3 linked regions of the Homo sapiens genome follow. The protein of the gene in region 1 interacts with the protein of each later gene in a pairwise test. Each region holds a gene or a part of one and is shown in the gene's direction. Other genes may lie near its edges.

The links. The genes of interacting proteins can lie anywhere in the genome.
Region 2: the proteins of QSOX1 (region 1) and CCR6 interact in a two-hybrid assay, tested with the Homo sapiens proteins (one large-scale study listed by BioGRID and IntAct).
Region 3: the proteins of QSOX1 (region 1) and BEGAIN interact in a two-hybrid assay, tested with the Homo sapiens proteins (one large-scale study listed by BioGRID and IntAct).

The regions. Positions count from the first base shown.
Region 1 is NC_000001.11:180,199,853-180,202,215, forward strand, and holds part of QSOX1 (sulfhydryl oxidase 1 isoform a precursor), read left to right. Parts: 3' UTR 1-2,363. UniProt on the Homo sapiens protein: Catalyzes the oxidation of sulfhydryl groups in peptide and protein thiols to disulfides with the reduction of oxygen to hydrogen peroxide. Plays a role in disulfide bond formation in a variety of extracellular proteins.
Region 2 is NC_000006.12:167,129,591-167,133,122, forward strand, and holds part of CCR6 (C-C chemokine receptor type 6), read left to right. Parts: intron 1-3,532. UniProt on the Homo sapiens protein: Receptor for the C-C type chemokine CCL20. Binds to CCL20 and subsequently transduces a signal by increasing the intracellular calcium ion levels.
Region 3 is NC_000014.9:100,580,891-100,584,422, reverse strand, and holds part of BEGAIN (brain-enriched guanylate kinase-associated protein), read left to right. Parts: intron 1-3,532. UniProt on the Homo sapiens protein: May sustain the structure of the postsynaptic density (PSD).

The DNA.
Region 1 (2,363 bases):
AGGGGCTGCTCCATGCGGCATTCTTGGAGGTCCAAGAGGGGCAGCGCCACCTTGGGCCAGGCTCCTCTCCAGCAGCCTTGGTATGGGGTGGGGGTGGGAAGACCCCTGATGCAGCCTGTCCTCTGGGTGTGGGGGTGGAGGAGAGGGCTCCAGGGGACCCAGCCAGCCTTGACCCTGGAGGAAAGTCAGGTGGGCTCAGAGAGAGCCCTCAAATCTGGGCCCTGGGTCAGGGTGGGGTCAAGTCCAGCCTTGAAGAGAATGGACTCTGGAATCTGACGTCTGGGTTTGAATCCAGCTTCCAACACTCACTGGCTGTGTGACTTTGGGCAAGATAACTTATCCCCTTGTCCCCATGTGTCATTGGAGATAAACTACCCACCTACCAGATTGTTGTACCATGCTGGGCAAACACTAAGTGCTTAATAATGGTAGCCCACTGCTCATGTCGTGTCGTCTCCTGTCTTGATACCTGAAAACTCAAGGGGCCCTGTTGTGCTTGGAGGGGGGTGCCGTTCCCACAGGATATTCTGTGAAGGGTGTCCCTGGAGCTGGGCCTCCAGGTGGCAAGCCCCAAGCCACCCCGGCAGGTGCCACTGGCCAGAGTTGAACTGAGGTGTTGAGTGGAAAGTGCCTCCCCACCCCCATCTGCCACAGTAGTATGGATTTCCTTCATGAGATGGGGCTCCTAAAATGCCTGAAATGTGTATGCTGTTGGAGAATTGATGTGTATGATTTATTGAACTTTGCACTCATTTAAATCTCATTTAATCCTCCAACAACGCAAGATGAAGAAGCTGAGGCTTAAAGAGATTAAGAAACATCCTATCCCCTTTACTCCCACCAAAATAAATACATTTGCCCTATTCTCCCAAATGGTGAGAGGTAGATCCAGGACTTGACCCCAGATCCCACCCACTCAACCCTGGAGCTGCAGTCTCTACCCCTTCTAACACATGTGATTCTGTTTCATGTCCTGTTCCATCGGTAGAGTTACACACTTTCCTGAGACTTTATATGGTGGTGCTGCTGGGTGCCAGCCCTTCTTCCCTCCAACAGTGGCAGTAACCACTGTTGTGTGTTGGTGTCAAGGAGTGGGGACACCCTGAAGGAATCCGCCTTTTCTAGAGCTCTCGCTCCATTCCCTACATCGAGGCTGAAGTGCCCTGTCTCGGGTCCTTGTTTTTAGGCCTCGTTTGAAGGAGGGGAAGAAACCAGGTTCGTTGGGCGTGACCTTGGCTCAGCTCGTCTGTGAAATTGGGGCCGCAGACTTAGTTTGCGGGTCCCTGCTAAATTCCTCTCCCTCTTCCTGGGATTCCCATCCATGTATTGCCAGCTACATGTAGAGTGGAGAGGAGAGGTTTTTCCTGCAGGGCCTTCCAGAGAAAGGATTCTTGGCCAGAGGAAATCACAGCCTATAAGATCAATATCCTGATAGAATCCCGGGCCAGGTGTGAGAGGGGAGAGCTCACTCACACCAGCCTGACAGTCTTGGGGCAGAGCGCCCCATAGGCCTCTGCAGCCCCATCACTGCCTCATTCTCCCTCAGGTGCCAAGGAAGCTCCAGGGTGGGCCCAGTATCCTTCCACAGCATCCCTCCTCTTCCCCTTCAACACCCCTTTCACCCCTCCCTCCACCACCTCTGAAAGGTGCTCCTTGGGCAGGGCGATAGGATTCCCACCCCTAGCTTTAAGAACTAAACCAAACTTCAAGAGGAGCAATTTAATCTTCATACCTGACTCCTTGTCCCTCCTCAGGCATGCTGTTGTGCAGGACAGAGCCCTGGCTTCTCCTGGATGTCACACCTGGCCTGTCTCTGACCCTTGCTTTCCCTTTCTCTGCTGCCCTCAAGGGTCATTCACACCCAAGAGGGTAAGAAGCTGCCCTCTCATCCCTTCCTCTCCCACCCTGGGCCTCTGCCCTCTGCCTGGCCCCAGCAGCACAGTCTTCTCCATAGAGAGGGGCTGGGCCATGGGACCCCAGTTCCTGGGGTCTCGGTGACACAGTTCACTGTTTGCTGCAGAGGAGGCCCCACTCGCAGCCTTGGCCTCTGCCCTGCAGAAGAATTCCCTGTAACTCACTCACCAATGGCCGTGGGAGCCAGTGGCCTCGGCGAGGGTCAGTTGGACTGCATAGCTGCCGGCTGAGTCTCTCTGGCCACCCTCACTGGCCCCATCACTCCAGGTTGCACTGCTGCCCAGGGGGTTTGTGCCAGGCCTGGGTCACAGTGGAAGAGAGTCTGGAAATCACAAGGCAGAGGAGGAGACCTTTGCCAATGTGAGAGAACAAAGTTAAGGGGCAGTCCATGGGGGCATTGACCTTACTTAGGTGAGGAGGACTCAGGGAACATCTACAGACTCTAGGGC
Region 2 (3,532 bases), on another chromosome or scaffold:
TTTTTGAAATGCTTTTTTTAAAAAAGAGTAGAGAGGTGCCAAACAGGAATCAAGAAATTCTGCTTTCTCTTGTCTTCAGAACATGTGATAAAGCTCAGTCAATGAGATATGCCTTCCTGGTGAAGGAGATACTCAGGGGATGAGACATGATGAGTCTCTCATTTGGTGTCATGCCATAGTGTGCCCGCCCTACAGGGTACCCCGGGTCCTGTGAGAGGCTAACATTCAGGTGGGGGGTGACAATGAGTTACTGAGACAGCAACAATCGACACTTTACTTGAGGCAGCTGAATATTGGAAAAGAAGCCTCTTAACTGCAAAACCGAATTGAGTCAAATGACATTTCTAAAGTGTGTCATTAGATGACTTTTTCTTAGAGCCCCTGAAACTCCTCCTCCAAAGAACAGTGTGTCCTACAGAAGCTCTAGAAGTATTCCTCTGCCCACTTGTTTGGGAAATATCTAAATTCCAAAGACAAGAAAATTACACTTTAAGAATCAGTTGAGCTGAATGTATTTTACATGTGATTTAATGACATCAAAGTGAGATCTGGTGAGAATGGTGGTCATAGGGACCACGTGTGAGATAGGAAGTGCTGAACCTCAAAGAGACAGTGTGAGATGTGTTGCAGGTGGCTGCTTTGCAAGGGTAGGTTCACTGGTTCACCAAGAACTGGACACAGGGCTCAGCACATTTCCCTGCATCTCTCATCTGCCACTCGTAGATAACAGGGTGTCTTATTCTCAGTTCATTAAAGAAGGAACAGAAATATCTACTAAAAAACTTCTTAGTGTCTTCACATCAACATTTTCTTAATAGAAAATCTGCAGCCTGTTTCTCCAAGGAGCTGGTGACTGCTGCCTGAGATCTGAGATGATAGAGCAAGTTGTGAACAGGATTCTTTACACGTTGAGGTGATACCCACGCCAATCTGTCACCAAAACAGTTTCCTTAAAACAATTCACACAGTTTTTCCTGTGAAAACAGTGGCTTGGGGAAGGCCGAATCATTTTCAATGACTGTGGCTGGCATACAGGTGAACCTGACAACCACCGTTTTTATGGAGAATCCTGATTCTTAACCACAGTGACATTAAATTTGTCATTATCTAGAATTGTACATTGTTTATACCTAACACGTGCAAAACACCATCCTAAGAGACATGGAATTTATCAATTTTGGTTCATTGACTTATTCTGACATGAGAATAAATGAAAGGAAATTAAAGTAGTGTCTTATGAACAGGACGGAGTAGGCCAGCTTCTCATAGCTCTGCCGGGAACTTCCTGCCCTGTGGCCTGTGTATCTGGTTCCCTCTGGGCCTCCTTCTCTCAGGGACCCCACCCTCTGGGCCCCCCTCCCTCCGGGACTCCTCCCTCTGGGACCACCCTCCCTCTGGACCCCCTCCCTTTGGGACCCCTCCTTCTGGGACCCCCATCCCTCTGGACCCCTTCTCTCTGGGCCCCCTCCCAACTCCTTCTGCCGACAGGGATCCATCACACAGGCGCCCCAGTGCTGGCCTTCTGTTCACCAAGAGTTACTCACTTTCTGGGGTGCATCTCGTGATGACTGCTAGCATGGAACCGTTATATAATTACTTGTTTACCTGGCAGCCTTTTGAAGCTCAAGTACGCGTTGAGTCATCGCTGCACTTCAGTGCCTCTCCTCCGTAGACAGTTCATAAACATTTGTTGAACTGAGTTCAACTTAAATTCAGAAAATACTGTGTGTCACGGTGCAGTTAAACAAATGCTTACCTTAAATGGGGGCCCGTTGGGCATCGAGTGCACGGCGTGCCGGGCCGTCCCTCCCTTTTTGGCCCCCGCTGCTCTTCCCATCGTCATCAACTCAGCCTCCACGTGATGGGGAGGTCACTCCCTCCCATCCGGTCCCAGCCCCACTCACCTGGGAACCCGTGCCGCTGGCCCCACCTTGGCCTAGCATCCGTCCAACCCTGCAGCGACCGCTCCCCACAGCCCCTGCTCCCTTGTTCTCCAGAGCCGCGCCCCTGCTGCAGGCCTCCCCCTCGCTGTCCCCAAGCCCCTGCCTTCCACCCACACTGCCCACTCCTTCCCACCGTCCCCGCCTCTGTCCTTATGGAGTCCTCAAAAGCTCTTCTTGCCCCAGAACCTCCCATTACCCCTCAGTGCTCAGCGGCAGATCCTTGCTGTGACTGTTTATGGCACTAAGTGTCTGTTCCAACACATTTGCGCGGAAGAGTACGCAGGTACTTTTAAATTAACTTTATTGAGGCTAATTTATATGCAATAAATGTCACCGATTGAAGGGTACAATTCAACAGGTCTTGACAAGGGCACCCAGCCATGTGCCACCCCCACAATCAGGATAGAGGACATTTCTGCCACCACAAAAGCCCCTTGTGTCGCCCAACCCCAGCCAATCCCTTCTTCCCGTCCTGATGACAATCCCTGATTTCATTCCTGCCACTGTTATTTTGCCTTTTCTAGAAATGTTAGGGGTGGAATGGTGCAGTGCATGGTCTCTTCTGCCTGGATTTCTTACCGAGCGAAGGTTTTGAGTCACCCCCGTTGGAGCATGCATTAGTCGCCCGTTCCTTTTCATGGTTGAGTAGTATATGCTGTTGCATGGATACACTTCAACTCGGGTATCTGCTCACCAGTTCACAGACATTTGGGTCTTTTTCAGTTTGGGACGGTTAAGAATAAACCTGCTGGGAATGTTCCAGTGTTAATCCTCCCATGTCTCTTGGGTAGACATGTAGGAGTCGGTTGCAGGTTCCCATGGTGGATGCATGTTCAGCTGTGCAAGAAAGGACCCCACTGTCTCCTTGGAGTGGCTGTGTGATCTTGCAGTCCCACCAACAAAGTGTGAGAGCCCCAGATGCACCATGTCCTCTCCCAGCTTCCAGCCCCCTGTTTAATCTTAGTCCTTCCAGTGGGATCTCTGTGTGTGTGTCTGTGTGTGTGTGTGTATGTGTGTGTGTGTTTTGGACGGAGTCTCTCTCTGTCACCCAGGCTGGACTGCAGTGGCGTAATCTCAGCTCATTGCAACCTCCGCCTCCCGGGTTCAACTGATTCTCCTGCCTCAGCCCCCCAAGTAGCTGGGATTACAGGAGCACGCCATCACGCCTGGCTAATTTTTGTATTTTTAGTAAAGATGGGGTTTCACCATGTTGGCCAGGATGGTCTCGAACTCCTGGACTTAAGTGGTCCGTCTGCCTCGGCCTCCCAAATTGCTGGGATTACAGGCCTGAGCCACTGTTCCCAGCCTTCATTGTGGTTTTAATTTGCATTTTCCTCATGATTAATGGCATTGAGCGTCTTTTTTGTGTGTGTATTTGCCATCCATGTATTTTCCTTGGTGAATTGCCTGTTCACATTTCCCCCTGTTTCTTATTGTTTATGTTTTTGATAGGGAGTTGTAAAAATTATTTGTATATTCTGGATATAACCTATTATCAGATATAAGCTTTAACATACTTTTTTCTATTCAATATATATATGTTTCACTTTCTTGAGTGTCTTTCAAAGAGCAGAAGTTTTACATTTTGT
Region 3 (3,532 bases), on another chromosome or scaffold:
CAGGAGTCAGGAGCTGCTGGGGCTCTTCTCTCCCCTCTAGCCAGGAAGGGAACTCAAAAGTGGCCCTTGCCTCAGCAGGCCTTGAGTCTGGAGGACAGTACAGCAGCCTCTGTGGTCTGCCTGGGGTGGGGATCAGCCAGGGCCCAGCTCTGAGCCAAGCAGGGGAATTGCAGTCATTGGTTCAATCAGCAAGCCCTGAGCCCAAGTCAGGGATGGAGATGGGTCAGGCCTGGGCTTTGCCTGGGGAAGCCAGACATGGAAGCCTGGTCATCCCACAGTGGGTGCATGCTGGGATTAAGAGGTGCATGAGGTGGAGAAGCAACGCAGGCATGCTGAAGGGGATGCATGGGTGGATGATACTGTATGGAAGGGAAGCACTAGCAGGATAGAGCAGCGGATGGATGGGTAGAAACCTAGAGGGATAGGCTGGGCGCAGCGGCTCACGCCTGTAATCCCAGCACTTTGGGAGGCCAAGGTGAGTGGACCACCTGAGGTCAGGAGTTCAAGACCAGCCTGACCAATATGGTGAAACCCCGTCTCTATAAAAATACAAAAAAAATTAGGTGGGTGTGGTGGTGTGCACCTGTAGTTCCAGCCATTTGGGAGGCTGAGACAGGAGAATTGCTTGAACCCAGGAGGCAGAGGTGAGGTTGCAGTGAGCCGAGATCGTGCCACTACACTCCAGCCCCTGGGCAACAGAGTGAGACTCCATCAAAAAAAAAAAAAAAAAGGAAGAAAAACGAAAGAGAGAGAGAGAAAGAAAGAAAAAAAGAAAAGAAAGAAAGAAAGAGAGAAAGAGGGATAGATGGACGGGAGGAGAGGTTGATGGATGTAAGTAGCAAGATAGGGATGGGTGGGTGGACAGATGGAAAAGTTGATATGGATACAGGACTGGATTGATAGAACAAAATATCAATGGATGATACATGGGTGGAGGGAGGGAGACTTCTGATACACAAGGCAAGATTGGTAGATGAATGGATGGAAGGATCTTTGGATGGATGGATGAAGGAATGGATACATAAATGGATACAGGTAGTGCCTGGATGTTGGGATGGGTGGATGAATACTTGAATACATGTCCATGAATGATGGACAGAGGAATGAATGGACACTGGAAGAGTGAGTGCATGGATAGGTGATGAGTGTATATTGACGGATGTGTGGATAGAGGCCTGAGAAGGCAGCTCAGTGCACAAATGGATACAAAGCAATGGATGCATGGATACGAGACACAAGTAACAGAGGAATGGACAGACATGGAGGGATGGGCAGGCGGACAGATGGAGACGGGAGTGAGAGGACCAGTGAACAGATGAGTGCCCATCAGCGGGTGAGGGACACAGAGACAGAAGGATGTGTTGGTGCGTGGATGGCACCTGTAAATGGGTGAGCGGTCACAGGGGTGGATGGTGAAGGACGGTTGGTTGAATGGGTGAAGCTTCAGGTCACTCATGCCTTGATTTCCCAGATGCCAGTGTTTTGCTCACAGACCCCCATGTCCCTCTGCTTCAGAGACATATACTACGCAGGCGCAGGGTCAGGAGGGGGCTGATCAGACAGGGAGACTTAACCCCACCTTGACTTTGGTGGGAGAAAAGCCAACCCAAACTAACAGCTATTTGGCCTTTCCAGGCCCGCTTTGCCCTGGAAGACCCACTCAGGAAATAAGGAAGAAGCAGTGAGACCTCTTCGAAAGGTCAGCGGCCAGCCGGGGTTCCTACAGGGGCGTCCTTGCCCAGGGATCTCCCTGGAAGACCTGGACAGCTGTGTACATGTCCTATCTGAGGAAGAGAACTGGGGCACCTGTGTTGGGTGCTGGGGACTGGGAGACATCAAGACCATGGCTGCCCTTGGAGATTCTGAGGCCAGCGTGGAAAATCCAGGGACAGCGGGGCAGGTGATTAGGAGCACAAGTGTGCGGATTCCCAGAGCCTCAGTGTCCTCAACTGCAAAAGGGGAATAATAATAGACACTTCTGACTGGGCGCGGTGGCTCACGCCTGTAATCCCAGCACTTTGGGAGGCCGAGGTGGGCCGATCACGAGGTCAGGAGATCAAGACCATCCCGGCCAACATGGAGAAACCCCATCTCTACTAAAAATACAAAAATTAGCTGGGCATGGTGGTGCGTGCCTGTAATCCCAGCTACTTGGGAGGCTGAGGCAGGAGAATCGCTTAAACCGGGGAGTCAGAGGTTGCAGTGAGCCGAGATCGCGCCACTGCACTCTAGCCTGGCAGCAGAGCGAGACCTGTCTCAAAAACAAAAGAGAAAAAAGAAAGAAAGGAAAAAAAATAAACTTCTGTGCTGGGACGAGGGGAAGGTTGGTGAAGGTGACCACACCTCTGCTGGCCTATGCTGCGGCCCCTGGCGCATGCCCGCACCATGGGGGTTTACCCGAGACCCCTCAGAGCCCAGTTTCCTCCTCCGTGAAGCGGGGTAGCTGCTCCTAGCTTTCAGGCCTGCTGTAAGAATGAAGCGAGGTGACGTTTGGCACTGTCAGCAGAAGCCCGGCATGCCTGCCCACTCGGCAGGGTCCTCCCAACATCCTGTGGCCTGGTCTTCCTGCTCCAATCCCAGCAGACAGTGGGCAGCCTCATGCCCCTTCTGTCCGAGCTGGCAGGGGCCAGCTTTCCAACCACAGGGGCAGTGTGTGCCAGGCAGCAGGAGAGGGGCTTGGGCATCTGGAGAGGAAACGGGTGTGAGTGCCTGACCTTTGGGGTTCTGTCCTGGGCCTGACATGCCCAAGCCATGTGACCTCCGACGGGTCACTGCACCTTTCTGAGACCCTGCTTCTTTTAGCAGAAAATAGAGCCTTTGGCTGTCCTGATGCACAGAGGCGGGTGGGGATTTGGGGTGATGACGCATGCACAGCACGGAGCTTGGCACGCAGGATGGGCTTGGGAAGCAGGACTGAATCAGATGAGTCAAGAGGCAGGGGCTGCGGTGCCAGGAGCCGGAAGCCCCTCCAGGAGAGGTTGTCCAGGCTGCTGGTAGGTGAGCAGGTCCAGGCCGTGAGCCCACGGTAGCCGGCAGCATCCTTAGAGCCTCAGGCCCAGGCGCCTGAGAGCCAGCAGGTTGTTATGACAACGGAAACTTGCCTGATGCAGCCTGAAACTCTGGAAGCAGCTCAGAGGACTGGTTGGCCAGAGCCCCCAGAACACTCCTGCAACCATGCGTGCTAGTGAAACGGCCACATCAGAGCCCCAGTGCTAATGAGTCCTGAAGTCCCTTGCTCATGCCACTTCCCAGCACTGCCATGGGCTGAGTACTGCCCCATGCCCACCTGACAGATGAGGAGGGGATGTGGCTTGCCCGCAGGCCTGTTGGAGTGTTGGAGAAGGGATTTGAACTTGGATCTGCCAGCCTCCAAGTCTCTTTCCCACTGGTAATAGGGCAGGGGCTGAACGGCTGCTGCTGGGGAAGGGCTGTCCGGGTGTAGAGGGGCGACTGTCGGGGACCATAGGGTGGGAGGAGGACACTGTGGCCTCCCGAGAGCCTGAGATCCCTCCCCTATATTCTCATCCTGTTT